2 separate regions of the Homo sapiens genome follow, and region 2 is linked to region 1. The links come from fine-mapping of genetic effects on gene expression. A gene starts in region 1. The other region holds a variant in brackets. All regions are shown on one strand. Distances are from middle to middle. Region 1 holds the start of IER5L (immediate early response 5 like). Region 2 overlaps IER5L-AS1 (IER5L antisense RNA 1).

Region 1 (15,177 bases):
CGGGTTCAAGGAATTCGCCTGCCTCAGCCTCCTGAGTAGCTGGGATTACAGGCACCTGCCACCACACCCAGCTAATTTTTGCATTTTTAGTAGAGACTGGGTTTCACCATGTTGGTCAGACTAGTCTCAAACTCCTGACCTCGTGATCCACCCGCGTCGGCCTCCGAAAGTGCTGGGATTACAGGTGTGAGCCACCGCACCTGGCCTTGTTTAAGTCTTTTTTATCTGTAGAAATGGGATCTCGCTATGTTGCCCAGCCTGCTCTCAAACTCTTGGCCTCAAGCAATCCACCTGCCTTGCTGTCCCAAAGCACTGGGATTACAGGCCTGAGCCACCCCACCCAGCCTATTCTCATGCTTGTTTACAATCAAATTTAGTTATGGAGTTTCCAAAACTGCTTAAGTCCCACTAAAATGTTCACAAGGATCGCCTCCCATCACCGGGCCCCTCTGATGCTGTAAGAAAGGCTGCTGTCACTCATTTTATCAGCTGCCTTTTCAGCTTCATCAGAATCTGATTCCCTCTGGCCCAAAACTAACCTAGTGGGCATGGCGGGCATGCCCCGGGCATCCTCATCCCGAATCTTAAAGACAGAAGGGCTCAAAGAGACTCCCTTTCCAGGCTTGGTCTCAGGACCCTCCCCCTGTCAGTCCAGCCTCATTTTTAAGGCCCTGGGGAAGCCAGATGCAGGAGAGTAGAGCCATTAGCATTTGGGTTCTGGGAAATAAGAGACTGGGGTTCACACCCCAGCCCTATGACTTTCTGACGTTGTGAGTCTAAGAAGAGCAGGTGAGCTCTGTGGACCTCAGTTCCCTCTTTCGAAATGGGGCTGGCGACTGCATCCCAGCGTGGGCATCTGCACGCAGCAGTGGAGGGTGATTCAGAGTATGGGCTCCGGAATAGGGCAGCACTGGTTGGAACCGCAGCTCTTCCAATGAGGGATTCCAGCAAAGCCCTGGTCTCTTAAAATCCCCCGTAAAATGGAGATGATACAAGCGCTTGGTGGGGTGTTTTTAAAAATCTTGTGTCATGAACAAGCACACTGCCAAATATATACTCAGTTCGAAAGAAACAATGGTTCCCTTCCCCTCTCCGTGACCCTAATAGGCCGCCCTAACCAACACAGGGACAGAACTAACTAGTCACTAAGTGTGAGATGATGGGGCATGCTGTATGTCATGCCTGCCTTGTAAATGTTCATTATCTCAGTGTTCACTTAGGCTATAAAAAAGTAAATGAACAGGCCGAGCGTGGTGGCTCACGCCTGTAATCCCAGCACTCTGGGAGGCCAAGACAGGAGGATCACTTGAGGTCAGGAGTTCCAGACCAGCCTGACCAACATGGTGAAACCTCGTTTCTACTAAAAATACAAAAATTAGCGGGGTGTGGTGGCACACGCCTGTAATCCCAGCTACTCGGGAGGCTGAGGCAGGAGAATCACTTGAATCCGGGAGGCAGAGGTTGCAGTGAGCTAAGATCACGCCACTGCACTCCAGCCTGGGCAACAAGAGCAAGACTCCATCAGATAGGTAGATAGATAGATAGATAGATGATAGATAGATAGATAGATAGATAGATAGATAGATAGATAGATAAACGTTAACTAGTCCAATGAGTATAATGGCCTGACTTTGCCAAATCGAAGGTGTTATCAATGGTAAGACACTTCTCAATTTTAGAGATGTTAGATATGGGAGGAAGGTGGTGACTTAGAATAGATTAAATTCAGTGTATGATATTACGGTGAGACCATCAAGCTGTGGTTTCATAGAATTAAATATTATCGATTTCATTAGACAATTAGAAAACCCCGTCTCTGTGGGTATATTGCAAGCCACTGTCCCTTCCCCTTCTCTTCTGTCTTGGAAAGGGCATCAGACATAGTAGATACTCAACAAATGTCCGCTGAAGGAGTGAATCGATCCATCCCTCTAGTCATCAAAGAATCAGTGAATGAATCAACAGTGAATGGGGCCGGGTGCAGTGGCTCAAGCCTGTAATCCCAACACTTCGAGAGGCCGAGGCGGGTGGATCGCCTGAGGTCAGGACTTCAAGACCAGCCTGGCCAATATGGTGAAACCCTGTCTCTACTGAAAATACAAAAATTAGCCGGCATGTTGTTGGGCGCCTGTAATCCCAGCTACCTGGGAGGCTGAGGCAGGAGAATCACTTGAGCTTGGGAGGCAGAGGTTGCAGTGTGCCGAGATCGCACCACTGCATTTTAGCCTGAGCGACAGAGCAAGACTCTGTCTCAAGAAAAATAAAAGAATGATGCTTGTTGATTAAACAGCAGTGCTCAACCTTAGCAGAAGGACAAGACTGATTAAAACTTTTTTTAAAAGAGGGCCTTCAGCCAGGCATGGTGGCTCATGCCTGTAATCCCAGCACTTTGGGAGGCTAAGGAGGCAGATCATTTGAGCCCAGGGGTTTGAGACCAGCCTGGGCAACATGGCAAAACCCCATCTCTACCAAAAAAAAAAAAAATACAACAATTAGCCAGGCATGCTGGCGTGCACCTTTATTCCGAGCTACTCAGGAGACTGAGGCGGGAGAATCTCTTGAGCCCGGGAGTCGGAGGTTGCAGTGAACCACGATCACACCACTGCACTCCAGCCTGGGCAACAGAGCAAGACCCTGTCTCAAAAAAAAAAGGGCTTCATGCTAGACTGCTGTGATGTGAAAATATATTTTTGTACACATCTGATGCATGAGAAGCTAAACAGTTGTTCACCAAAATCCTTTCAAGAAGGCAATGTTTGTTCATTGAGAAAATACTAATTGGGCATCTATTATTTGTCAAGGACTAAGGAAGCTGCCAAGCAGAGACTTATGGACCTGTCCTCAGGGAATTTACAGTCTAATGGGGGAGATGGACAGACAGGTTAAAAAATAAACATTTTCTTAGTAGCTGTGTGATGAGAGGTGCCCACTATGCCCTCACCCCTACCACCAGCTGAGAGCATCATAGCTTATTTTTGTGATCAATGAACCAGTCAAAGATCCACTTTTTCATTGTTCAAGGCCCTGTGTCAGTGGCAACGCTGTGTATTCACTGAACCAGGTCATTTGGATGTGGAGAAATAGGGCTGCCAGTCCTGGAGCACACCTGAGGACTAAATTTCCCAGGCTCCCTTGCAGCTAGCTGATGACACATGACCCAGCTCTGGCCAATGGAAGGGAGGGATGCCAATTAGGGCTTCCCCATATAACATCCTTCAAAAAGAGAAAGAAGGAGACTTTCATTGGATCAAGCCTCAAAGATGCAGGAAGTTTGTTTTTGTTTTACAGACAGGGGTCTTACTATGTTGCCCAGGCTGGTCTTGAACTCCTGCCCTCAAAAGATTCTCCCACTTCAGCCTTCAGAGTAGCTGGGTGAACCACACTGTCCAGCAGGAATTATTTGTTACTGCAACAAAGCATAGCTCATCTCACACAGCCCTTTATAAAAATCCCTTCCATTTTCTTACGAATGAGGCAATAGGACTAAAGATGTCCTCGTTGGGCCGGGTGTGGTGGCTCACACGCCTGTAATTCACACACCTGTAATCTCAGCACTTTGGGAGGCTGAGGTGGACAGATCACTTGAGGTCAGGAGTTCAAGGCCAGCCTGACCAACATGGCAAAACCCCATCACTACTAAAAATACGAAAGTTAGCCGGATGTGGTGACGTGCGCCTGTAATCCCAGCTACTCAGGAGGCTGAGGCAGGAGAATCACTCGAACCCAGGAGGTGGAGGTTGCAGTGAGCCAAGATCGTACCACCGCACTCCAGCCTGGGCAACAGAGTGAGATTCCCTCTTAAATAAATAAAATAAATAAATAAGATGTCCTCGTTGCCAAGCAGAAAAATCAGGAACTGAGGAGAGACGCTGCCATGAGGAAGGATGAAGGCAGCAAGAAGGGAAGATGAGACACCAGGCTGGGCCATTGCAGCTGTCCCTGGAGGAGCAGCCACGGAGCAGAGCACTAGGAACCCATGAAACCAGGCTGCAAGAATGAGCAAGAGCAGCGTAGAGGATTGTCAGGGTTACACAGATATTCCCGCGCCTCCATTCTGAGTCCTGGAAGCCACCTTCTGCTTCCCGTTAAGTGCCTGCCCCCCGCCCCTCCCCTGCCAGGTGTCAGGGTTAAGCAAGCTGGCTGTGGAGACAAGCCAGTCTAAGGTGCAGTCGCTTACCCTCTCTGAGCCTCAGCCTCCCGGCCTGTGAAATGGGCGTGGTAATGAAAGTACCTCTGCTGCAGATTCTATCAGGAGGATTCACAGAGATGATTCATCAAGCAAAAAACTTAGTGGCGAGGACACGGCAAGTACTCAGGAAATAAACTAAGGAGAGGGTACTGGGGGCCATCACCCGGGACACAAGACAGAGAGACCCACTGTGCCACATTCTGGGGTCAGTTCTGGGAGAAGGCCCTGCCCCCTCCTCAAACCACGAGGTTCCACTCTCCCCAATGCACATCTCTCTCCCTCCTCTTCTCTGCCCCTTTGAAGCCACAGGCCAGGCGCCCTCCCTCGTTTCTACCCTCCTGAGGCCGGCATTGTGACTGTGGGCAGCTCACTTAGCCCCAAGTGTGTGTGTGAGTGCATGTGCGTGTGTGTGCTGTGTGTGTACGATGTGTGTGTGCCGTGTGTGTGTGTGCAGGGTGTGTGCGTGTGCATGTGTTTGCATGTTTGTGTGTCTGTGTGTGTGCATGCATTTGTGTATGTGCAGGGTGTGTGTGTGCATGTGTGTGGGCATTTGTATATGTGAGTGCATTGTGTGCACATCATGTTTGTGTGTGCATGTGTGTGCATATGTGGTGTGTGCAGGGTGTGTGTGCGTGTGAGCATGTGTATATGTGGGTGTGGGTGTGCGCATCATGTTTGTGTGTGCACATGTGTGTGCATGTTTGTGTGTCTGTGTGTGCATGTGTGGTGTGTGCATGTGTTTGTGTATGTTTCTGTGAGCATGTGTACATTTGGGTGCGTGTGTGTGCATGCATGTTTGTGTATGTGTAGGATGTGTGCGTGTGCATGTGTGTGTGTCTGTGTGTGTGTGTGTGATGGGCTAGCCAGTGTGGAGTACGGAAAGAGGCTGGCTGAGAGGTCTGAGTATGGATCATGCCCCGCTCCAGTCCGCCACTCGGTGGGAGGCCCCTGACCGGAAACTTCTTCCTATGCCTCAGTTTCCTCATCTGTATGACGAAGGCAATGACAGCGCCTGAGCCCCCAAGGGGCTGGGTGGACACAGGACACAGATGTCAAGGGCCCTGCCTGGTGCCCTTTCACCAACACAAGGTCAGGAACTGAAATTCTAATTGGCCCCATTTTTTCAAAAAAATTAAACAGGAATGAAAAGGAGCTTGGGAGAGGAATTGAGGGCAGACAGCCGGGGTTCGCTGTGCTCTCCTACTCTCTCCTCACACACACTTGAGAAATGATTTTTTGAGAAATGCTCTCAAAACGAAAACCAAAACTGCTTTGTTCCGTGCAAGTAGCATTAAGAATTCACTAGGGTGGGGAGCAGGAGGGGCACCAGTGCAGCTTGAGCTTCAGAACCGACGGCTGGAGAGTCTGGGAGCTGAGAAGGGGGACAGGCCCACCAGGGAGCACCAGACGGTGGTGGGAGGCCTGGGAGCCAGACACTCTCCCCTCCCTCTAGGCCCCACCCCAAGCCTGGCTGACTTCCCTTATCCCCTCCTCGCAAGCTTATTTATTTATCTGCTTACTTACTGCTTGCTTGTTTTTCCATCTGGAATGCCTGCACATGAGGCTCACGATGGCAGGGGCTGCTGTGGCACACAGTAGGCACTTAATATTTGTGAAAGGACCACTGAGCAAGTGAGGAAATGAATGAATGGTGGAAAGAGCCAGGGCGAAGCACAGCTGGCAAAGATGGATGAAGCTCAGACCAGAGGATGGGACCCACATAGCAGCGAGAGAGGTGTGGCTCCAGGTGTGCAACCTCACTTCCCCAGGTCTCAGTCTGGGAAAGGGGGAATGCAGTACCATCGCCTCGTGAGATCCTTTGGAGGATTAATGACAAATAATACATGTTACACGTTGTCCTGGGCCTGACACGATGGTGTCTACAGTTATTACTCATGGAGTGGGGAGTGGGGAGGAGAGAGGCACGTACGCCAGCTCCCACCACTCAAATGAAAAAAAAAAAAGAAAAAAAAATTATAGGATTCCTAAGACTCAAGGAGCTTCTCACTCCTTAGAAACTCCCAGCTGAGCTGGGGAAGGGACAAAGGTCTGTACTGAGTGAGTTATAAACAACTCAGCCAGGAAAGCTGAGCTGCCACCACCACACACACACACACACTCTCTCTCACACATGTGCACACACATGCACACACTCTTATACTCACATGCACACACGCATACTCACACACACACTCTTGCACACACACACACACACACACACACACACCAGCCCGGCCCAGGATTAACTCTGGCCTGCCCAGAGTGCTCAGCTCCAGGCAGGATCTTGAGAAAGGAGAAAAGAGGGCAGGGGAAGTTTCCGGTCTCAGCTCAGTACTAATCCCTTCACAGTGCCTCTCAACGTTCAAAGCACTTGTGAGTCAGGTGACAAATGAGGAAACTGAGGCCCGAGAGAAGCAATCTGCGTTCCCTAAGGATAACAAGGCCAATCTGAAGCTAGAACCCATTTCTCCAGCCCCCATCCCCCCAGTCTCCACCCTATCTGTTAGGCCACCCAGATGTGCAGAGCACTGAAGGACACCCCATCCTCACCCCAGAGCACCTCCCAGCAGGCTTGCCCTAAAAGCTCCAGCTGAGCCCTTGGCAGACATCACTAATCAATTGGAGCACCCAGGGCTCCAGGCAGACACCACTAGTCAATCAGATCTGGCTCCAAAGAATCAAGGATGCCTCAGCATGGCTCAGGGGAGTGACATCTGCCTGCCCTGCTCCTCACAGTTTAGCACAGCCCCTACACATTAGCCAGCATTCAGCCCATGGTGAATAAATGAATGAATGAATGAATGAATGAACAAATGAACACGCAGCCTTTGCCAGATGCTGGAGCAGGGACCCCAGATGTGAGATATCACATCTGTACCCTATGCACACTCCATGGACAAGTGCAGAATTCACCCAGAGGACCGACAAACGAAAGAGCCTCATTCCTCTCCCGAAGTTCCTAGTGCCCCGCCCCCCACCCCCAGAGCCCTGTGACGTCTCCTTCCTTTCGGTGTGAACAGGCAACTCACCCAAGCTCTCTGTGCCTCGGTTGCTCCATCCATGAAATGGGAATTATAACTGAACCTGCCTCAAAGGTTGGTGTGGAAATTCAGGGAGACTTGGTCCAGTGCCTGGTAAGAGCGAGAGCTCCAAGAAGAGCCAAACCACTGTCAGTCTTTCTCATTACACTTAAGGTCCTTGAAGCCAGGGCCACAGTGGCTTTCTGGGCACTAGGCCTATTGCCCAGGACTATGCTAGGAAAACACAGACAACAGCGAAGGGCGGGGGTCATTAACCTCCACCCGGGCCAGTGACAGGGAGCAAGTTCTGTGGGGCCAGCGGAGGCTACCCCAGATCCGCAGCCCTAGCCTCGTTCCCCAGTGTCCACCAGCTACAGCGCCACTGGCTCCTCAGCCTAAGAAAGAGAAGACTCAACAGTGACCCCTGTGGCCAGCCACACCCTCTGCCTTCCCTGCCACTGCCCGAAGCCCTGGGTTTCGGTCCCCACCCCTCTGGAACAAGCCACACTCCCAGCCAGAGACACAGTGCACTAGGGCAGCTAGAGGCAGGACCCGGAGGTGAGACGTCTGATTTCCAACCCCAGCTGTGGTCCCATGTCTTGAACACAGAGCACATCCCTCCTCTTCTCCAGACCTCAGTTTACCCATCTGGAAATTGAGGCTGGGGGTCAATCTGGTCTCCAGGGCCCTTCAAACTAGCAATGTTGTCTGCATCCTTAGGTTCATTGATTCACTCATGCCACAGGTCAGGGCCCACTGTGGACCCGGCCTTTGGCTGGGCCCCTTCGTTGCTGTTCTCGCTGCTAGAAGATCCCCCCTCTTCCTGGTCTCCAGGTCTCAGCTTCTCACTTCCCAGACCAGCCTTGGACCTTGGACCTGCCCTCCTCCAGCCCTGTCCTTCCAATCACAGACTTAGCTCTCAGTATTTTCTGGTCTATCTAGCTTGTCTGCTTCCCTCTGAATCGTGGCCTTCTGAAGGCAGAATCACATCTTGTTCCCTGACCCATTCCCAGGGACTCCAGAGAAGGATTCTGGAAGTATCTCTCAGGCAAATGAAAAATGAATGAATGTGTGAATTCCAAGTTTCTCTCCCACTTCCTCCAACACAACACCCCAATACAGTTTTTTGCCTATGGACCCCTTCCCCAAGTTAACCCCCGGGAGCCAACAGGGCAAATCCCACTGTGGATCAGGGGCCTTCCTAACCATGTCCCCTGCCACCAAGCCCGGGTGACCAGAAGGTGTCCACAGACATATGTGCACTTGTGAAGTGTTAACTGCTCTGATGGAGGGCTGACACCACCTGGGGTTTGATGGGAGCCCAGGTCCCCAGCGGTTCCATGCCCCAGCTCCATGCTGCCCCAGCAGACACTTGGTAAATACTGAGGCATTAATTAACTTCCTCCAGGGAGCAGTGACTCTGTGCCAGATGTAACCTCCCCAGCTCCAGGGGGAAAGGTGAGATCCCCAACCTTTCTCAGGTGTACAGAGAAATAAGGCCAGCCCTTCATCCTTGTCTCGTTTGGGCCTATTCCCCTTCGTGGGGTGCAGATCTGAGGGTACCTTCTCCTGACACGTGGGCACATACATTCTCACACACATGCACACACTGGCTGCCCTGAACCTTTATGCATCCCAGCAGAAGCCTGGCATGCAAACCACCCATTCTATAAACGTTTGTGAATTCCTACTATGTGCCCCCCAAGCCACACCGCTCCCCCGGGCACCAAATAGTGCAGCTGTTCCATTGCCTCCTTCAGCAAGGTTTTCCTGACGACAGCTGTGGTGCCTCCCCTTCCCAGCCCACCTCAAAAAAGACCAAGGGTTTTTATGAAGCTGCACAACTGCTGAGCCCTCCCCATTAGCCCACTTCTCAGTTCTTGAGAAAGAGGAGAGACAGAGTGTGGGCCCCCAACAGACCCAGAGGATGGGGCCACCCAGAAGAGGCTGACCACTTCTCAGCTGGCCCCAGTGAATGAAAGGAACTTCAAAGATCCCCAAACTCACCTTGTGGGGGACTAGGAGGTGCCACGAGGAGCTGCCCATGTGAGGGGCCTGGTCCTTCTGCCCCCAACCTGTAGGTGGAAATCCACCTCCATCCCTGCCCTGTTTCCCCATCTGGGCCCCCAGATTCATGTTCTGGGGTACAGCTCTGAATGAGGGGCTGAGGCTGAGACTGACATTTGCTTCCTTATGGGCCCTGGTCCCACAGCACTTGGCAGTAAAGCGGTGGGGGTCGATCAAACCAAGATCATATTCACCAAGAGCTGGGCCCTGAGAACTGGCCTTGGCTCCACTGACAGCGGAAGCTGATTTGGAGGAACCTCTGGTGAACTCCCACCCTGGAAACAGATGGGTTTGGGCTCAGATCTTGACTCCACCCCTTGCTGGTATGTGACCTCAAGCAAGGTGTGTAAACTCTTAGTTTCCCCCAATAAACACTGGGCCATGACAGAAAGAAGACCCCAAATCAGTGCTGATAATATTTTCTGGAGCTGTGGGCTTGCAGTGTGCCAGACACTGTGGATCCCAGACTTCACTGTTGCATACAGAGTCCTCACAGCTGTAAAGCCGGTAAGAGCTCCCAGATCCCTCTGCATGCTAGTGATGTCTCAAAGGTGAACTTCAAACATAAATAAATAAAGTCTTTTTTTTTTTTTTTTTTTGAGACGGAGTCTCACTCTGTTGCCCAGGTTGGAGTGCAGTGGCGCCATCTGGGCTCACTGCAAGCTCCGCCTCCCGGGTTCACACCATTCTCCTGTCCCAGCCTCCCAAATAGCTGGGACTACAAGCACCCGCCACCACGCCCAGCTAATTTTTTGTGATTTTTAGTAGAGACAGGGTTTCACTGTGTTAGCCAGGAAGCTCTTGATCTCCTGACCTCGTGATCTGTCCGCCTCGGCCTCCCGAAGTGCTGGGATTACAGGCGTGAGCCACCGCGCCCGGCCATAAATAAAGTCTTTGTGTGCCTTTAAGACAGGCACCAGGGAAGTGAAGGGCAGTGTATTTTTACTTCTACGTGTTATCACCTGAGCAAGTTCCACAGCCTGTAGGTCTGTATCACCAATAAAATGTAGGTAGGACATCCTTTATCTGAAGTCCCCTGAAATTTCAATCCTGGCTTCTCTGGGAGGAGGCCTGGAGAGGTGCTATTGGTCACAGGGGCCCAAAGCGTTTGAGATTGTTCGAGGGGGCCAAGGGAAGGACACAGCACCAGCCCTGGGGCCATGTGATCTTGGGCAAGTCTCACGCTGTCAGTGTCCGAGTTTCCTCATCGGAAAAATGAAGTAAACACCCGCTAACTCTGTCTTCACTCTCAACGCCTGGCATGGAGTAGATGCTAAGAAACTTTTGCAGAAATCTTGGAAATTCTTAAGACTAAAGAAAGACCCAGAGACCACAGGGTGGGCTACTGGGTCTCTCCACTCCCACCAAGGGATGAAGTAGGTGCTGAGAACTCAGAAGGAAGCCCCAAAAAGCAGAGACTCAGAAGATCCCCTGAGGAGGCGGTGAAGCAGCAGGACGTCTGGTCATGGGCCTCCCCCCTGAGTCCAGCCCCACAAGGTCCACCTATCTCTGGGAGACTCTGCAGACCTCGTTCATCCTTCAGGGATCCACTCATGGACCCTCCTCAGGCAAACCTCCAGACCATTTCCAAGAGCCTCCAGAGCTGTCTGGGCAGCCCCCACCCCAGGCACCTTTGAAACCCCTGGGAGCAGCAACCAGCCCCCTTCAGGCCTCTTGGTCCAGATAGAGCGCCCCCAGGAATCAGCAATCCTGTCCCTCTCTTCTCCCACTGTCTCAGTCCCCAGCTGGGACCTGAAGGGTTCAGGATAAGAAGGAAAGCTGTGTCAACAGAAGTTAAGTCGGTGAGTCCCCGGGCCTTTGGTATTCACCTCCCGTCTCGAGCGCAGGGTCCTGTCCCAGCTCCTAGCTCCGCCCCCTGGGAACTGTGTGGTTCCCCAAGTCACTCCACTCCTCCGAGCCTCAGGCCCCTCCTCTACAAACGTTAGAGTGAGGCATTGGGGAGTTGCTGGGAAGGGCCTGCCCCATATTAGGCCCATAATAATAGTCCCTATTGTCATTATTATTAGTTAGGCACGAAAGGAAAGGTTACAGAGCTGGTGATTAGGGCACTCAGCGTTTCGGCTCCCAGGACGCTTTTGAGCCTCAGCTGGTCGCGAGGTCCACACACTCCCTGGGTCATGCCTGGCCTCGGAACTCTCTCCATCAGAGAAGGTCAAAATTCACGATGTTTTGGTTTTTCCTGTCAGACAAATGGGGAGGACTTCCCTTCCGCAAGCATTCCCAGAGGCCCCTCGACCAAAAAGTCAAGGAGTCAGGCCCTACATTCTCTGCGGTAGAGGGTACCCCCAAAACCTCGCTCCTTTGATGTTCCCCAGTGTCAAGCCGGCGGCTCCACCAGCCTCCTGTAGAGAGGCCTTGACTCCCGCGGGTCACTCGGGGGGGCGACAGGTGCGCAGGTGGAGGCGCCGCGCCGCTGGGGGAGCGATGAGCGGCGCGCACCTGCCGCAGGTGAGGCCCAGCCGTGCGGAAAGGGGAGGAGCCGTCGCCGCAGCACTCAGGTGAGCCGACCCCCGGCTCCCGGGACCTAAGGCGAGGGCAGCCGCGGGCTTCAACGTGGCCGCTGCCAGGCGACCTATGCTGCAGACTGCGGCCCCGGCGGCTCCGAGTCCCGCGCGGCGCGGCAGCCCCAGGAGAACATTCGAGGCAGCAGCGGCGTTGGAGGCCCGGGGTCCGTTCGGTATTTGAATAGCACAAAGGAACCGCCTTGGTCTGATTGGCCAGCCGAGTAGCCCCGGGGCGGGCTGCGCCTGTCACTCAGGAGACTCTCAGAGCTCCTATTGGCTCTTCTCATGTGGGGCGGGGCCCGGGCACCCGGCTAAATAGCTGGGGCCGGGGCCGGCCGAGACTCATTGCTTTGGCGCCGTCTGGGGAGCGCGAGCCCGCGGGTGGCGCGCGGCGCATGGTGGCGGCTCCTTTCGGAGCGCAGCCGAACCTCTGACCCGGACTCCGTTACCCCTGCCCGGCGCGCCCCGGCGGCCGGCTGGAGGCAGAAACAGCAGAAGCGTTAACAGCAGCAGCGGCGGCGGCTGCTCCGCCGCCGTCTCCGCGGGAGCATGGAGTGCGCCCTGGACGCCCAGAGCCTGATCAGCATCTCCCTGCGCAAGATCCACAGCTCCCGAACCCAGCGCGGCGGCATCAAGCTGCACAAGAACCTCCTGGTGTCCTACGTGCTCCGCAACGCGCGCCAGCTCTACCTGAGCGAGCGCTACGCCGAGCTCTACCGGCGCCAGCAGCAGCAGCAACAGCAGCAGCCGCCCCACCACCAGCACCAGCACCTAGCGTACGCGGCGCCGGGCATGCCGGCCAGCGCGGCCGACTTCGGCCCGCTCCAACTTGGCGGCGGCGGGGACGCGGAGGCGCGCGAGCCGGCCGCCCGGCACCAGCTGCACCAGCTCCACCAGCTCCACCAGCTGCACCTCCAGCAGCAGCTGCACCAGCACCAGCACCCGGCGCCCAGGGGCTGCGCGGCGGCGGCGGCGGCCGGAGCGCCCGCGGGCGGCGCGGGGGCGCTCTCGGAGCTGCCCGGGTGCGCCGCGCTCCAGCCGCCGCACGGCGCGCCCCACCGCGGGCAGCCCTTGGAGCCTCTGCAGCCGGGTCCTGCGCCGCTGCCGCTGCCGCTGCCGCCGCCCGCGCCCGCTGCGCTCTGCCCGCGGGACCCTCGCGCCCCGGCCGCCTGCTCCGCGCCCCCAGGGGCCGCCCCTCCGGCCGCCGCCGCTTCTCCGCCCGCCTCCCCGGCCCCCGCCTCCTCCCCCGGCTTCTACCGGGGCGCATACCCTACCCCTTCGGACTTCGGCTTGCACTGCAGCAGCCAGACCACCGTGCTGGACCTAGACACTCACGTGGTGACCACGGTGGAGAACGGCTACTTGCACCAGGACTGCTGCGCCTCCGCCCACTGCCCCTGCTGTGGCCAGGGCGCTCCGGGACCGGGCCTGGCGTCCGCCGCCGGCTGCAAGCGCAAGTATTACCCTGGCCAGGAGGAGGAGGAAGACGACGAGGAGGATGCGGGCGGGCTGGGGGCCGAGCCCCCCGGGGGCGCCCCGTTCGCCCCCTGCAAGCGCGCCCGCTTCGAGGACTTCTGCCCGGACTCGTCCCCGGACGCGTCCAACATCTCAAACTTGATCTCCATCTTTGGCTCCGGCTTCTCGGGGCTGGTGAGCCGACAGCCGGACTCCTCGGAGCAGCCGCCGCCGCTCAACGGGCAGCTGTGCGCCAAGCAGGCGCTCGCCAGCCTCGGCGCCTGGACTCGAGCCATTGTCGCCTTCTAGGGACCCCCGAGGGCACAGGGACCCGGGGCCCCGCGGGGCTGGGGCCAGACAAAGACTCGGCAAAGGGGCGAGAGGAGGGAACGAGCGGGCGCCGGGCCACTCGGGGCTGAGCTGGGGGCGAGCGGGGGCAGGCGGCTGATGTTTTATAAATTGTAAAATAAAAAAAAAAGAAATCTAAAATCTTGGACTTTATTTTTGCAGAGAGAAAAAGCGCCTATTTAAGTATGCTTTGTGTTTCTCCTACTCCTTTTTTTCTTTTTATTGTAGTGATTGCAGTGGTGTTTAGCGAGGAGCCTACCACGTGAGGGAGGGCTGCTGCCCGGAGGAGGTGCCGGGCAGCCGGGGGCGAGGCAGGGCGCCCTGGCCGCCGGGGCGCGCCGGGGGCGCAGCTCAGGAGGGCGCCGGACCTGGGAAGCCGATTCCAATCAGTTGTCAGACCCGGGAAGCCCGACGTTCCGCTCTCCCGAGTCCCTCTGTGGGGTGAGGAATGGGTCTTGTGAAATTCTGAGCAAAAACAAAGGCAAACTCTATCTCCGAAAGGGACGTTTGGGTCACATTTCCTCTCTGGGGGCGGACTCCAAAGTTCTCAAAATGAGAAGGCAGAAATGAAAACACTTCAACTTTTTTTTTCTTTTCTTCCCGGGGCGGGTGTCTTGAACCCCTCTTCTCCCCGCCCCTCTGGCTCCGTTCTCCTCCCCTCCTCCACCCGTCTCCCGGACTCGGGGGTGGCGCCTGACACCCCGACACTCTCGGACACTGGGTAAGGGGTGGGGGGCGGGCACGGCGGACTACATTTCCCATCATGCCTAGCACTGCGGTCCTCACTAAACAAAAAAGGAAGTCAATTCCTTCACCTGGATCCCCGGCGGCCCCGGGGGAGGGAGGGGCCGGGACCGCCGACTGCGTTGGAGACTTTGCACTAAGTTCCTGGTCAGCTGTGGTGTTTGTGTGTGTGCTTCTAAGTTGCACTGCCTTGGTTCAGCCTTCGGTTGCATTTCATGAAACCAGCATTGTTCGAGCCTGTGAGAACCCCGTCCTGTGTCTTCAGCTCGATAGATTTGTTTAATTTAAAAGCCTTTTGTTGTAAAAAGGTGGGGTTCGTCTGCAGCCCCTCTGGTTCTCTGCCATCAGCACCGTGTGGACTCCAAAACGAGTTGCCAATCCTTCCTTTCTCGGCCCTTTTCCCTCATTACCCTGTATTTTTGTGCATACTGAATTGTATATCACCGGGTAAAACTGTTCAGATTGTTTAAATTTATAATCTTAATAAAAAGTCGATTACAGAAGATGGTGGTGCCTTGTTTTCAGATGTCTGGGGGCGTCAGAGAGGATAGAGAGGTGTGGGGAGAGACCCCGCCCACCCCCATGTAAACCCCAGTTCTCTTCGGCCTGGGCGGGCGGGATCTACCCACATCCGCAAGGTCGGCGGTGGGAGAATGGGGGGTGATGTTGGTGGCTGGGGATGAAGCGGGTGCTGCGCGTCTCTCGGCCGCCCCCGCTCCAGGGGGGTCCTGTCCCCCACGGGAACTGGCCGCCCCGGGGTCTCCAGCGGGAAGCGGAGCCAGCCTCCAGCACATTTCCTGCCCAGGCACAGGCGCAGGGCCTGGTCGGC
Region 2 (16,050 bases), 84 kb before region 1:
CATACAGCATTTAACTTTTTGGGGCTGGCTTATTTCACTAGCATAATATCCTCAAGGTTCATCCACACTGCAATGTGTGTCAGAACCTCCTTCCTCTTTAAGGCTGAATCCGAGTCCCTTGCGTGTCTACACCACATTTTGCGTATCCATTCGCCCATCGATGCTTCCACCTTTTGGCTATTGCGAATAATGCTGCTATGACGATGGGTGCACAGATCTCTCTTTGAGACCCTGCTTTCAATTCTTCTGAGTATATACCCAGAAGTGGAAATGCTAGATCATATGGTAATTCTATTTTTACTTTTTTTGAGGAACTGCCATGCTGTTTTCCACGGCGGCTGCACCATTTTCATTCCCACCAGCAATGCCCGAGAGCTCCAATTTCTCCACATCCTCATCAACACTTACTATTTTCTGTTTGTTTGATAGTAGCCATCCATCGCCAATGTGCTTTGACACACATCACCTCGTTTGGTAAAAATCGGTCCAGGTGCAAGGGCCGGCCTGAAAGGAGCAAGGAGCCTGGAAGACGGATGAGGTTGGAACAGAAACAGCAAGTGGTGTGTCTGGCTGAAGCACACGAGTGCAGTCAGAGATGAAGCTGGGAAGGTGTCTGGGTGAGGCTGACCTCGGGGGTCTCCAGATACCACGGGAGGAGCTGAGCTCAGAGAGCATGTGTCACTTGCCCAGGGTCTCAAAGCCAATAAGTAGCAGAGCTGTGACACAAATCCCAATTTGTTTTTCATAATTCCATCAGCATTTATTGAACACCTACTGTGTGCCAGGCCCCATGCTGGGGGCTGTTTGATACCAAATCCATTGCTCTTCACTGCTGCTGTACACTGGCTCAAATAGTGGTCAGTCTCCAAGCTGCTCTAAGACAAGATGCATGAAGCGAACTCAGCAGGGTGTGGAGGGAGGGCATGGAGAGCAGCTAGCTAAACCATGGGAGCTACTTCATCGCACACTCACGCTCTCACTCAAGGTAGAACCGGCTGAGCCTGAAAGGGTCGGTTGTCAACTCGAGAGGAGAAAGGAAATGCCCGGTAAATGACAGACCATTTGCAGCCTCCCCTCCCCAGCAGACGAGCTGACCATCACCAAGTGATGGGGGTCTACCAAAAGTGGGGGCTTGAGGAGGGCTTTGATCATAAGCAGTTGCCATGTTTGTAGGTTGACAACAGCTGCATGTCGGCACTTTCACGGAGTAAACATCATACAAAATGATGGCATCACTTCCGCTGGCTTCCATTCCCTCTTCCCACACTTGGTGGGTTCCTACTGATGCGGGGCAGATGAGCCCCAAAACTGGGGCTTAACCCAGGAGGGTTCTTGGCTTCACCCAGGAAAGTATGTAAGGGTGAGCTGGTGGTGTTAGACAACAGCTTGTATTAAAGTGGCCATGCCTAGCCCAGCGGAGGAACTGCTCCCTGCAGAGCAGGGCTCCCCCGCAGGCTGTGTGCCCAGAGTGGCAGCTCAGATCCAATTCTGCACTCATAGTGATACCCACTTTTAATTATATGCAAATTAAGGGACAGTTCATGTAGAAATTTCTAGGAAAAGGGTGGTAACTTCCAGATCATTGGGCTGTTGCCATGGAAAGGGCAGTCACTTCTGGGTGTTGCCATGCCAATGGTAAACTGGCATGGCACACTGGTGGGCAGCCTTATGAAGAGGTGCTTCCACCCCAGGCTTGCTTTAGCTAGTCCAGTGTCCAAGGTCAATTTGGTCCAGTGTCCAAGGTCTGCCTCCAGAGTCCAGTCCCACCCTACCTCACTACAAGTGCCAGTAGTAGGAACAGCAGAGGTGAAGGAAATGACATGGCCCCTCCCCTCATGGAGCTTGTGGTCCGCTGAGGGTCACAAATATAAAACACGCAGCCCATGGTGGGGGTCATGTGTCTGGGGCATGGGGGGCAACTTCTCCGATGAAGTATTGTACAAGCTGGGACCCAAAGCATGAGGAGGAGTTGCCCAGGGAAGGGGGTAGGGGAAGAGTGTTCCAGAAAATGAGAACGTGTGCCAAGGGGCCAGAAGAGGCCAGGAGCAGTGGGAGACTGACTGGGAAGCATGGCTGGGCTGGCTGAGCGGGTAACTGGGCTGGGGGAGGAAATAAGGCCAGGGTTTGCCTTGTTTAGCCTTTCAAATGTCAAGGCAAGGTCAGGCGCAGTGGCTCACCCCTGTAATCCCAGCACTTTGGGAGGCCAAGATGGGCGGATCACTGAAGTCAGGAGTTCAAGAACAGCCTGGCCAACATGGTGAAACCCAGTCTCTACTAAAAATACAAACATTAGCATGACGTGGCGGTGCATGCCTGTAATCCCAGCTACTCAGGAGGCTGAGGCAGGAGAATTGCTTGAACCCGGGAGGTGGAGGTTGCAGTGAACTGAGATCACACCACTGCACTCCAGCCTGGGCAACAGAGCAAGACTTCATCTCAAAAAAAAAACAAGAAAAAAGGTCAAGGCAAATAGGGCTCAACATCAAAATCATTTCAACAGGCATAGAATTGTGGAAATGTTTCCTGCTGTGTCTCCCCTGTTGCTAATTCAGTACATTTTCTCTCTCCCCAGCATCTCCCTACCATAAAACTTAAACCATGAAGCGTTTGGTCCCATGAAGAGCCGTGTGGATACCATCTGCATCCCTGACTAGGGAAGAAGGGGACTGTGACAAAAGGAGAGTCCCTGCTAGACAGCAGCGGGGACTGGAAGCCCCTTTCAGGGCAGGAGGAGGGGAAGGGAGGCTGAAAGTCAGGCGTGAGGCGTCTGGGGGCAGTAGAAAGATTCAGATAGGTTTGGGGGATCCGAGGACATCAGAGCTGGTGCCTATGTCCCCAGGATGCATCCTAAGGGGTCTGCGAGGCTCACCTTAGGCCTGACATTGCACCCAGTGTGGCCAGGCTGCAGCAGATGGAAATGACTGAGGGTCCCCAGTCCCCAGGCAGAGGGGCTGAGGACAGTCTCACAGAGACCCCCAACCCCTGCAGCTGAGTGGAGGAAGCCCAGGAACTGAATGGGATGGTCTTATGGGTTGAAGTGTGTCCCCAAAAAAGATATGCTGCGGCCCTAACCCCCAGTACCTGTGAATGTGACCTTATTTGGAAATAAAGGTCCTTGCAGATATAATTAAGAAGAGGTCATTAGGTGGGGCCTAATCCAATATGAGTGGTGTTCTTAGAAGAAGAGGAAAATGCCATGTGACATTGGAGGCAGAGAGTGGAGAGATGCATTTGTAAGTCTGGGGCTAAAGCCGGAAAGGCAAGAAAGGACCTTCCCCTAGAGGTTTCAGAGGAGGCACGGCACTGCCCACACATTGATTTCAGACTTCTGGCCTCTGGGACTGTGAGAGAACACATTTCTGTGGTTTTCAACCACCGGGTTTGTGGGACTTTATTAGAGCAGCCACAGAAAAAAACAACATATGGGAAGAAGATTGACTGTGAATTGGAAGTTTTCAGGGCAAAGCGAAGTCCAGTCAGCCTCAGAGAACGTGGATGCGGTTCCCGGAGACCAGGGCAGACCAGACCCGCCCCTCCTGAGCAGGTCCAGTGATGGCAAGTAGGGCAAGAGACTCCTGTCCTGGCCCATGCAAGCTTCTCCACACAGCCAGACACCATCTTCAAAAGGAAACAGGAGGGAGACCCCCCCGAGTGCAGAGAAACCACCCTTACAAGGGATAGGGCTTTGAAAGGACCACATATTTTCCTGTAAGAGACGACTTTACAAAAAAAAAAAAAGAGAGACTTTCGGTTTTGTCACCCCTCCTCTCCCCACTGCCAAGACATCAGCAGGAAAGGGGGCACAGGGCAAAAGGAGATCAGATCTGGAAAATCCAGGCTTTTCACACAACTTAGCCCAAGAACGTACATTTCACCCCCTACACTCTTCTGTTTTTTTGTTTTGACACAGAGTCTCACTCTGTTACCCAGGCTGGAGTACAATGGTGCAATCTCAGCTCATTGCAACCTCTGCCTCCCAGGTTCAGGTGATTCTCCTGCCTCAGCCTCCCAAGCAGCTGGGATTACAGGCTCGCGCCATCAAGCCCAGCTAATTTTTGTATTTTTATTCGAGGCGGGGTTTCACCATATTGGCCAGGCTGGTCTCGAACTCCTGACCTCAAGTGATCCACCAACCTTGGCTTCCCAAAGTGCTGAGATTGCAGGCGTGAGCCATCGCGCCTGGCCCCCTACACTCATTTCTACTGATAGTTTCTGCAGAGTTAGGGCACCCTTTTAAGCACCGATACAGGAGAGGCTCAGGCAGGAAACCAAGGTAGGTTTCACAAGTGCATCTGC[A/G]GATGGGGCCACCCAGTTGATCACCAGGATGTTCACTGGAGCATGACATACAAACGCAAATGTCAGAAGCAACCTACATATCCACACGGGACTGGGTAAATAAATAATGATAACGGACTCTGTGCCACCATTAAAATTATGCTGTCAAAAGTGGTTTCATGATATGGGCCCAGCATGGTGGCTCATGGCTCTAATCCCAGCAATTTGGGAGGCTGAGGCAGTCGGAACACTTGAGGCCAAGAGTTCAAGACCAGCCTGGCCAACATGGTGAGACCCCATCTCTACTAAAAATACAAAAATTAGGCCAGGCGCAGTGGCTCATGCCTATAATCCCAGCAATTTGGGAGGCCGAGGTGGGCGGATCACCTGATGTTGGAAATTTGAGACCAACCTGACCAACATGGAGAAACCCTGTCTCTACTAAAAATACAAAATTAGCCAGGCGTGGTGGCGCATGCCTGTAATCCCAGCTACTCGGGAGGCTGAGGCAGGAGAATCACTTGAACCTGGGAGGCGGAGATTGCAGTGAGCCAAGATCGCGCCATTTGCACTGCAGCCTGGGCAACGAGAGCGAAACTCCATCTCAAAAATAAATAAATAAATACAAAAATTAGTTGGGCATGGTGGCAGGCGCCTGTAGTCCCAGCTACTTGGTAGGTGGAGGTGGGAGGATCACCTGAGCCAGGGAGGTGGAGGTTGCAGTGAGCCGAGATTGCACCACTGCACTTCAGCCTGAGCAATGGAGCAAGACTCTGTCTCAAAAAAAAAGTGATTTAATAATATGGTGAAAGGTTGTGATAAATGTTAAGTAATAGTAACAATAATAATAAATCAGCCTAAAAGGGTATCTTTTTTTTTTGAGGCAGAGTTTCATTTTGTCACCCAGGCTGGAGTACGGTGATATGATCTCAGCTTACTGCAACCTCCACCTCCCGGATTCAAGTGATCTCATGCCTCAGCCTCCCGAGTAGCTGGAATTACAGGCATGTGCCATCACGCCTGGCTAATTTTTGTATTTTTAGTAGAGATGGGGTTTTGCCATGTTGGCCAAACTGGCCTCGAACTCCTAGCCTCAAATGCTGGAATTACAAGCATGGGCCACTGCCCCTGGCCTGCCAAAAAGGGTATCTGTAATATGATTCCAATATTTACATGATGTTGCTGTGTAAGGCTAACTGCTTTAACCAACAACTCCCAGAGTTCAATGGCTTAACACAACTAAGGTTCATTTCTCCCCAAGACACTGTCAAATGTTGGGCAGCAGGGGTTGGGAAGAGTCTTGACTCTACTGGGTCATTTGGGAACCCTGGTTTCTTCCATCTAGCAGCTTGGCTGCTCACTAGGGTGTTGGAGTCCTTCACTAGGTCCTTCACTGGGTCCTTCCCATCCTGAGAGCATCCAAAGAAGAGAGAACTTGAAGGAGTAATAGAAGATTTTATGGAACAGGCTGATAAGTAAGGGACATTACCTTCTCCCACATTCCACTGGTCAGACCCAGTCATGTGACACTCTCCTTGCAGGGGAGGCTGGGAAATGTAGTCTAGCTGCATGTCAGAGGAGAAGGGAAACAGGATTTGCTGAACACACAGCATCACGTCTGCCAGTTAATATGTATAAAAAACATTACTGCAAGGAAATCACCCCATTTAACAGTCATTATTCCTGGATGGTGAAACTATAAGCATTTAATTTTTTTTTCATATTTACCTTACTTTGAATTTTTTAATTTTCTGAAATAAACATTTAGTACTTTTACAGAGAGGGAAAAATGTAATTTTATAATTGAAAAAATAGTCTTCAGGCTTCTTCTGGGATTTGGACAGGATTGTTTGGTGGTCAGTCTTACAGGTTATATAATCGAAGGAAAGTTGTATCACCTTCTATGCTAGTCTGTTTGGACTGCTGAGACAAATACCATAAACTGCCTAGTTTTATAAACTAGGTAGCTTATAAAATACAGAGATTAGTGCAGTTTTGTTACATATGTAGTAAAAGGGAAAAAATTTAAAATAAAAATAAAACACAATAGAGATTAGGCCGGGCAAAGTGGCTCATGCCTGTAATCCCAACACTTCAGGAGGATCACTTGAGCCCAGGAGTTGGAGACCAGCCTGGGCAACACGGCAAGACCGTTTCTCTATAAAACATGAAAATCAAAATCAAATTAGCCAGGTGTCATGGTGCACACTTGCGGTCCCAGCTACTCAGGAGTCTGAGGATCGCTTGAGCCAGGAAGGTTGAGGCTACAGTGAGCGGTGATTGTGCCAGGCACTCCAGCCTGGGCGACAGAGTGAGACCCTGTCTCAAAAAAGAAAAAAGTAAAGAAAAACAACAAAGATTGATTTCCCACAGTTCTAGAGGCTGGAAGTCCAAGATTAAGGCACCAGCAGATTCAGTGTCTGGGGAGGGTCACTTTCTGGTTCATAGACAGCACCACATCTCTGCATCCTCACGTGGAAGGGACAAGACAGCTCTCTGGGGCCTCTTCTATAAGGGCATGAATCCCATTCCTAAGGGCTCCACCATCATGACCAGGTCACCCCCAAAGGCCCCACCTCCTCATGCCACCACCTTAGGGGTTAGGTTTCAACTCATGTATCTGAGGGGCACACACATTCAGACCATGGCACCTTCCTCAGACTTAAAGTCTCCACCTCTGTAAAATGGAAAATAAAAATGACAGACACCACATAGAGAGCTGGGAGAATTAAATGAGAAAACGTGGAAGTGCTATTGGCATGACTCCTGGCACAGAGCAGGTGCACAGCCGGCATGATTTCCATCGGTTAAATCTCCTTCCCTGCCCATCCACTTGCCCCCTGCTGGGTCACAAGTCCAGCCCTCCTCCTCGTCCCTCGCCCACCCACACCATCTCTCCGACTCTCTCTCACCTGGCGACCCTGCTTTTTATTTCAGAGGGACAGAGACAAGAAGGATAAAACCCAGGGACGGTCACCTTGGCTTCTACCCCTGGGTGCCTGGGCCTGTCCCTCAGCCACCTTCCTGCTTCCAGACATCGACACTCAGGCCCCCAGGCAACCCTGTCTTGCACCAGATCCCAACTCCCCTGGAGGAGGAGCTCCAGTCCTGCTCTGTCCTGCATCACCCACAGTCCCATCCCTGCGGCACAGTTCTCACCAGCATCCAGAAGGGCCGCGGCCACTCCCACCTTGGCAAAGCCTCTGACTGCACCCCTCTCTCCGGCCATCACCCCATTTCTCTGCTCCCCTTTATGGCAACATTTATCAAAAGAGTTGACCAGGTGCAGTGGCTTACCCCTGTAATCCCAGCACTTTGGGAGGCCGAGGTAGGAGGATTGCTTGAGCCCGGAGTTTGAGGCTGCAGTGAGCTATGATGGCACCACTGCTCTCCAGCCCGGGTGACAGAGCAAAACCCTGTCTCTAAAAGAAAAGAGAGAGGGAGAGAGTTCTCTACCTGTTGTGTCTGCTTCTTCTCATCCCAGGCTCCCAGAACTCACTCCAGACAGGTGCCACACCCTCTGTCCACCAACATTGCTCTTGTAAAGCTCATCAATGGCCTTCCCACTGCTCATCCGATGGTGGATCTCCAGCCTCCTCTTCCCTGACCCTCAGCAGGCTGTGGCCCTGGCATCACTCCCTCTGCCTCGATACCCGCTGCAGGCACTCATGATTCTTTCCCCTCCAACCTCACCGCCATGCTTCCTCAAGCTTCTTGGCTGGTTCCTTCCTCCCCATGTCTGTGGCCTCTAAAATCCTTGAAATGACTGAGACTCAGGCCTTGGGCACTGTTACAAGTTGACTCGTGTCCTTGGAAAGGATATGTCATTGATGAATATCACAGGGCCCTTAAAAGGAAGGGAATTCTGATTCTTGCTACAGTGTGGACTGACCTTGGGGACATTATGCTAAGAGAAATAAGCCAGACACCCAAAAAAACAAAGACCGTATGACTCCATTTATATGAGGTCCCTAGAGCAGTCAAATTCATAGAGCTAGAAACCAGATGGTAGCTGCCCAGGGCTGGGCAGGGGAGAATAAGGAGGTGGTGCTCACTGGGTACAGTGTTTCAGTTCAGGAAGATGAAAAGGTTCTGGAGATGGATGGTGGTGATGGCTGCAGAGAATGTGAATGTTCTTAATGCCACTGCAATACACACTGAAAAATGGTGAAGCCGGAGCCAGGCTCAGTGTCACACACTGTAGTCGCAGCTACTCAGGAGGCTGAGACAGGAGGATCGCATGAGCCTAGGAGTTGGAGGCTGCAGTGAGCCATGATCATGCCTGCAAATAGACATTGTACTCCTGCTTGGGCAACATAGCGAGACCCTGTCTCAAAAAATTTTTTGTTTAAATGGTGAAGATGGTATATTTTATGGTTGTGTACTTTTTTCACCATATAAAAAAGGATAACCGAAGCCGGGCACAACGGCTCATGCCTGTAATCCCAGCACTTTGGGAGGCTGAGGCAGACAGATCACTTGAGGCCAGGAGTTTGAGACCAGCCTGAGCAGCATAGTGAAAGCCCATCTCTACTAAAAAAAAAAACAAAAATTAACCTGGCATGGTGGCACGCACCTGTAATCCCAGCTGCTCGGGAGGCTGAGGCACAAGAATCGCTTAAGCCCACCCTTCCTTGTCAACTCCAGGCTCATCTTGCCCACGCCCCATTTGTGAGCCACCATGCCCATCCCCCTTATTTTACATCACAAACCACCTTTCCTGGGACTCTCTCTGCCCTCCCCACCTTTATTTTTCTCCATTGTATAGTATCTGTCACCTCTAATAAAGTATATAACGTACGCAGTTTTTCACTTACTGTCCATCTCCCTCCACTAGAACGTAGAGGCCATGATGGCAGAAAGTTTTGTCTCTTTTTCCTGCTGTGTTTCTGGGCGAGAACAGTGCCTGGCACAGAGTGCTGCTTAGTAGATAGTGAATTAATGAGCATATGAATGAATGGATTTTCTGATGAAGGCCCACATTTTCTCACAGTCAGTTTCAGCTCTAGAAGGAGGCTGGTGGACCAGGCGCAGTGGCTCGTGACTGTCATCCTAGCACTTTGGAAGGCAGAGGCAGGTGGATCACCTGAGGTCAGGAGTTCAAGACCAACCTGGCCAAGATGGTAAAATCCCATCTCTACTAAAAATACAAAAATTACCCGGGAGTGGTGGCCCATGCCTGTAGTCCCAGCTACTCGGGAAGCTGAGTCAGGAGAATCACTTGAACCCGGGAGGCGGAGGTTGTAGTGAGCCGAGATCTCACCACTGCGCTCCAGTCTGTGCGACAGAGAGAGACTCTGTCTCAAATAAATAAATAAATAAATAGAAGGAGGCTGGATGAGATGGAGGAGCAGGGGGCTCCCTTTCTTGCTTGAAAGTTGATTTAGAGCTTCCCTCATAGGACCTATGGTCATTTGAGCGCCTGCTGAACTGAGGTCTGGTCAGGGCTGGAGAAGTCTGTTCAGTACTGTTTCTCATCCCTGTGATTTCCGATGCTCCCCTATCCCTGGCCCACTGTGGCTGCTTCTCACCTGCTAGACTGAACACCAACTCCCCACCACCCCCACCAAGCCTGGGCAGTAAACTGTCCTCCCCAAACCCCATTACTCCCTAATTCTGGGCCTTCCTCAATCCCAGCCCACATGTGTCTCTCAATCTCAGCCATTTCGTGAGGTAGGAGGCAGGACTGGACTCTGAGGTGGGGCTCAAACACCTGATCAAATGGAGAACTAGCTAAAACAGGGAAGGGACAAAAGCACTTCTCTGTAAGACACGCCCACTGGTGTGCCATGTCAGTTTACCATTGCCATGGCAACACCTGGCAGTTACTGCCCCTTTCCATGGCAACAACCCAATCATTGGGAAGTTACCACTCTTTTTCTCAAAATCGCTGCAAAATCTGCCCCTTGATTTGGAAATAATTAAAAGTGGGTATATTGGACGGGCACGGTGGCTCATACCTGTAATCCCAGCACTTTGGGAAGCCAAAGACCGGCAGATCACCTGAGGTCAGGAGTTCGAAACCAGCCTGGCCAACATGGTGAAACCCCATCTTTACTAAAGATACAAAAGTTAGCTGGGTGTGGTGATGGGTGCTTGTAATCCCAGCTACTCAGGAGGCTGAGGCAAGAGAATCACCGGAACCCGGGAGGTGGAGGTTGCAGTGAGCCAAGATCGTGCCACTTCACTCCAGACTGGGTGACAGAGCGAGACTCCACCTTAAAATAAGTAAAATAAAATAAAATAAAAGTGGGTATAATAAATATGAGTGCAGAACGGCCTCTGAGCTGCTACTCTGGGCACACTGCCCATGGGAGAGCCCTGTTCCACTAAGAGCAGAACCTCTGCTGCCGCTGTGCACAGCCTTCTCAATACAAGCTGCTGCCTAATGCCAGCGGCTCACCCTTGAATTCTTTCCTGGGCAAAGCCAAGAACCCTCCAGGGCTAAGCCCCAATCTGGGGGCTCACCTGCCCTGCATCATTACCAGCTGTGTGACCTTGGGCACAGCTTCCCCGAAGCCTTAGTGTCTCTGATACGGTTTGGATTTCTGTCCCCACCCAAATCTCATGTCAAATTGTAATCCCCAGTGCTGGAGGAGGAACCTGGTGGAGGGTGTTTGGATCATGGGGCTGACCTCCTCATTGCTGTTCTCATGAGAGTGAGTGAGTTCTCACAAGATCTGGTTGTTTAAAAGTAGGCAGTACCACTCCCCTCTCCAGTCAGGTAAGTGTGCCTGCTTCCCCTTCGCCTCCCACCATTACTGTAAGTTTCCTGAGGCCTCCCCAGCCATGCTTCCTATATAGCCTTCAGAATCATGAGCCAATTAAACCTCTTTTCTTTGTAAATTACCCAGAACCATGAGCCAATTAAACCTCTTTTCTTTATAAATTACCCAGTCTCAGGTAGTTCTTTATAGCAATGTGAGAACAGACTAATACAGCCTCCATCTGTAAAATGCAGAAGCCAACAGTCTCTGCCTCATTCTAAGATGTAAACGAAATTTGACTGTCAGTGCTCAGCACAGTGCCTCAAATGCAGTGATCACCCCTAAAACATCACCTAGTGTGAAAATTATCATCGTGGTCAAATGTCTCCAAATGCTTACCTTTCTCCATCCAGCACCTGTGGATGTCCCATTAGAGTTTCTTAATATTATGATTTATCAGTGACCACCATAGCCCAGGTCCTGTCACTAAGCCCCCGTGTGCCAGGAATTCGGTGTGCACCATCCTGGCATCTGCTGGAGCCCCCAGAGTGCTGACCTTGCCTGCCTTCCCCTGCACGTGTTCTTCCTCCAGAAGCCTATAGTTTGGAATCACCATTTTTCTCTTTTTCTTGCTCCCAGCGTCCAGGATCCTAGCTAAATGGCCCTCTAAAACTGTGGGATATCTCGGGAGCACCCCCCTGGCCCAGTCCTGTGGAGACGGTAGAAGAGACAGGCAAAAGGAAGCGTGTCTCTGAGATCCTGAAACTTACATGTAGTTGTGGGGAGGCCAGGCACAGTGGCTCACATCTTTAATCCCGGCACTTTGGGAGGCCAAGGTGGGCAGATCCCTTGTGGTCAGGAGTTTGAGACCAGCCTGGCCAACATGGTGAAACCCCATCTCTACTAAAAATATAAAAATTAGCCGGGCGTGGTGGCACATGCCTGTAATCCCAGCTACTGGGGAGGTTAAGGCAGGAGAATTGCTTGAACCCAGGAGGCGGAGGTTGCAGTGAGCCAAGATCACACCACTGCACTCCAGCCTGGGCAACAAGAGCGAAACTCCGTCTCAGAAAAAAAAAAAAAAAAAAAAAGCATGTAGTTTGCGGGGAAGGGGTGATTTGCACCTAGAGTTACCAGGCAACAATTCAAGCCAATGGCAGGAAGCTGGACAGGATTCACACCGGAGGTGCGGGAAATTCCTGCTGGCGCTTCTGTCAGAAGCCAGGTCTGGGTGTTAGGCAGCGACTCATACCCTGGGATCAAGAACTCTGTTGCCTTCACCTTCCCCTCCCTTTCCTCTTGCTTGGGGGTTGGACGCTCCTGAGAAGACAGGGTGGAGGGCAAAGGTGGAACTGGAGATGGGCCCAGACCCCTCTGCCCAGAGAGCGGGTGGTGGGAGAGAGGACATTGATTCTGGACAGGACCAGGATTACGGGAGAAACCCCAGAAAACCAGAACCAGAGAGCCCTGCTGACTCTACCCACTCTCCTAACTTTACAGAGGGCAGCCTGAGGACCAGGGAAGGCAGGGGACTTCCCCAAGGTCACAGACAAAGTCAGCCTCAGGGCTGAGACCCTGACACGGGTCTCCTGACCTTACCTCCAGCCCTCTGTCCTCTGGACAGCAAGGGAGGCATCGTGGAGAGCTCTGGGGAGAATTTTATTTTTGATGGTGGCCAAGATGCTGTGCTAGGACCTTCCGACATCTCAGCAAATCCTCCCCCTGCACGAGGGAGGACACTATTATTGTCCCCAATAGTCAGAAGAGGAAGATCAGTGATGGGAAGCAATTTGCTCAAGATTCCGCAGCCCAGAGGCCCATTTTGAGCCCAAATTCCTACCCCGTCCCTGCCGTGCTTCTTAGAACCAGAGAGAGGCCTGTCGGGTTTGCAAAGACAGCCTCGCCCCTGCCAGGCTCTGAACCTCAGTCTCGTCTACAAGGAGGACGCCACCTCTCTCCTCAAGCTTGTTTCCAGAATGAAAGGAGGAAGTGCGTGGCCTGGCCCGTGGGAGGCGCTTGGGAAACGGCAAATGTGCAGTGGGCGGCCCATCCTCAAAAGTTCGGCAAACACAAAGCACTTTTTCTTTACAATTTTTTTAGCATTTTTTTTTTATTGTGGTAAAATATCCATACCAGAAAGTTACCATTTTAGTCATTTGTACGTGTTCCGTGAACGTGGCTTTAAGCATATTCACGTTGTTGTGTAACCATCCCCACCATCCATCTCCACAACCGTCTCATCTTCCCAAACGCACACTCTGTCCCCGTGAGACACTCATTCCCGGCGGCCCTTCTTATACTTTCAAAAATGAACCTCCTGCCGCATATCCTGGCTGGGCAGGCTGGGAAGGGGAAAAAAATGACAATAGACTGGTGGAATAATGAGGACAGAGAACAGGAAGTGAGGAAAGAAGAGGCTTGGGGGGCTGGACGCGGTGGCTCACGCCTGTAATCCCAGCACTTTGGGAGGTCAAGGCGGGGGCAGACCACGAGGTCAGGAGATCGAGACCATCCTGGCTAACATAGTGAAACCCCAACTCTACTAAAAATACAAAAATTAGCCGGGTGTGGTGGCATGTGCCTGTAGTCCCAGCTACTTGGGAGGCTGAGGCAGAAGAATCGTTTGAACCTGGGAGGTGGAGGTTGCGGTGAGCTGAGATCATGCCACTGGACTCCAGCCTAGGTGACAGAGCGAGACTCTGTCTCAAAAAAAAAAAAAAAAAAAAAAAAAGAGGCTTCAGGGCAGAGCATTAAGGTGGCTGTTTCCAGAGGCCAGGCCAGCTGCAACCTCCCTGCAGGTCTCTGCCAGAGCCGCCCGTCCCCAACTCCCACCACCCCTCCAATCAGGGACAGCCAAGATCAAGATAACTTCCTGGCCCAGCCTCAGGGCCCTCATCTCTAAAATGGGGATGCTGATAAAGTTGGTACCTCTTAAGGCTGTTGTGGGAATTGATTGATAATGTTCTCATAAAGCACTTAGCCTATGCCTGGCACGGGACGACCTTTGGGGCCAGCCACCATTGGTGTTGCTGTCATTATTATTCCACCCCAAGAACCAGAAATAGAGCCAAGGTCCTCGTGCTTTTCCATCCAACTTTATACTTTACTTCCCCAAGCAGCCCAGCTGGTCTTCTCACCACCACCACCCCCCGACCAAGTCCTTGAGTTTAGTTCAATCTGAGTTCATTGAGCACCTACTATGTGACCAATCTCATGCTGGGCACTATGACCAAAGAGGCAAGCAAGGCACAGTGCCCACCCCAGAGGGCTCTCAGTGACATGAGGAGGCAGCCTCAAGTTCAGATCTCTTTGGGCCAATCCAGTCAGTGAAAAGCACATTTCTGTTCCAAGGGAGGGCAATGAAAGGGTCTGGGGGGTCAGGGAGGCTTCCTGGGGGAGGCGAATAAAGGTGGGCAGGACAGTTCAGAGAATGGGAGCCACACAGGCCAAGGCCAGGAAGAACCAAATGCCCCAGGATCTTAAGAGAACCAGAAGTGATTTACTATTAAGGGAGCACAGGGGTGTGAGGCGGAGGGTGGGAGGGGTCATGGATCCGGAGGAACCAATGGGGTAGGGCAGGTTGAGGGCCTGTGTGTGCCCAAGGAGAGTTAGGATGCTCCCTTGCAGATGACAGTGCCATGGAAGTAGCGACATCTGCATCTTTGTCTTGGAGTGGGGGCCCAGGGGACTGTGGACAGAGGGAGGTTAGAGAGATGACAACAGTGGATAGGTGCTACTGAAGGCATCTTGGGAAAATAGCGGGTAACCAGAAAGGGAGTGGTGCAGGAATGGCGAGGCGGAGGTGGACTGCAGAGATTCCAGAGGTAAAACTGTCAGGATGGCGTGGTCGGCAGAACAATGCCTCCAAAATGTCTGCATCCCAATCCCCGGAACATATGGATCTCCTTCTTATATTTCATGACAGGGGAGAATTAAGGTTGCAGGTGGAATTGAGGTTGCTAATCAGCTGATTTTGCGATGGGGAGATTATTCTGGATTATCTGGGAGGACCAATGTAATCACAAGGTTCTTAAATGTGGAAGAGGGAGGCAGGAGAGTCAGCGTCACAGCGATGCTAGGGAGGAAAGACTCGGAGCTATTGCTGGCTTTGAAGACGGAAGGGGGCCAATGTGGGCGGCCTCTATACTTGGAAAAGGCAAGGAAACCGATTCTCCCTCAAGAGCCTCCAGCAGGAACACTGTCCTGCAGACACCTTGAATTTAGCCCTCTGAGACCATGTCAGATTTCTGACCTATAGAACTGTAAGAGAGTAGATGTGTGTTGTTTTAAGCCACTCAATTTGTAGTGAGTTGTTACAGTAGCAATAGAAAACTGATACAACTGGCGATGGGGATGGGGCTGGGAGAAGGGGCATCAAGGACATCTGGCTTGGGGACTGGAAGGACGGCTATGCCACCAAGCTCGAGAGGCTGCAGGAGGATAAACGCGTGGGATGGGAGTCCACACCTCCTCTGGCTGCCGCACCTGAGGGAGCAGCCCAGCCCAGCAGTGGGCACGGAGCCCAAGGATGGGGGTGCATTCGTCATCACAATCAGGGGTGCAGTCGCTGCTGTAGGATGGATAGGCGAATGGATGCAGGCGAGGTCCCCTACGATGCCTTGGGTCTCATGATTCGAATATCAAAACAACCACACTTATTAAGCTTTCGGTTCTAGAACAAGACAGAGAAACAGAATTTAAACCTCAAGGTCTGAGGTCAATGTGGGGTTAGAAACTCAGGGCCGGGAGGCATAAGCAGAAACCCTGCGGGTTCTCAGATGCCCGCGTACCCGATTCTTCCTGGAGGAAGGGGAGCAGGTGAAATTGACTGGGTTCCTCTCCCACCTCTCTTTCCGTAGCAATTCCTTTTTTCCCTTTCCTTCAAAATAAAAAGGAAGAGGGGGTGCCCTGCTCGCAGGAGAAGCGCGGGGCCCATCCCCGCCCGGGCCACGCGGACCCCTCCGCCCGGCTTCGTTCCCCGCCTCCCCCGGTCCTTTGTCTCGCTCCCGCGCTGCCGCGCACATGGTCCCCTGTCAAATTCTGGGCGGCTCCCGGGGACACGTGTCTG

Evidence for each region. PIP is the estimated chance that this variant, and not a neighbour inherited with it, causes the effect.
Region 2: its variant is the best candidate, but not a certain one, in a credible set for the expression of IER5L in lymphoblastoid cells (GTEx, PIP 0.58).

The regions. Positions count from the first base shown.
Region 1 is chr9:129,175,226-129,190,402 of GRCh38, reverse strand. It overlaps IER5L (immediate early response 5 like), which reads left to right and starts at 12,142. Exons shown (of 1, transcript NM_203434.3): 1 at 12,142-14,851. The coding sequence starts at 12,351. The coding sequence ends at 13,565. LOC105376289 (a long non-coding RNA gene) reads right to left here and starts at 8,632. Exons shown (of 2, transcript XR_007061813.1): 1 at 7,219-8,632. RefSeq lists enhancers at 10,334-11,257, 11,258-12,181, 11,919-12,213, 14,588-14,647, 14,577-15,177 and silencers at 11,938-12,317, 12,548-12,887, 13,838-13,987, 14,328-14,377, 14,951-15,050.
Region 2 is chr9:129,258,605-129,274,654 of GRCh38, reverse strand. It overlaps IER5L-AS1 (IER5L antisense RNA 1), which reads right to left. Exons shown (of 7, transcript NR_187590.1): 6 at 15,773-15,861; 7 at 14,058-15,654. Among named protein-coding and RNA genes, the nearest start is that of LINC02975, 16 kb to the left of the region's middle. RefSeq lists an enhancer at 15,510-16,048. The variant A/G (reference allele first, on the strand shown) is at 4,297.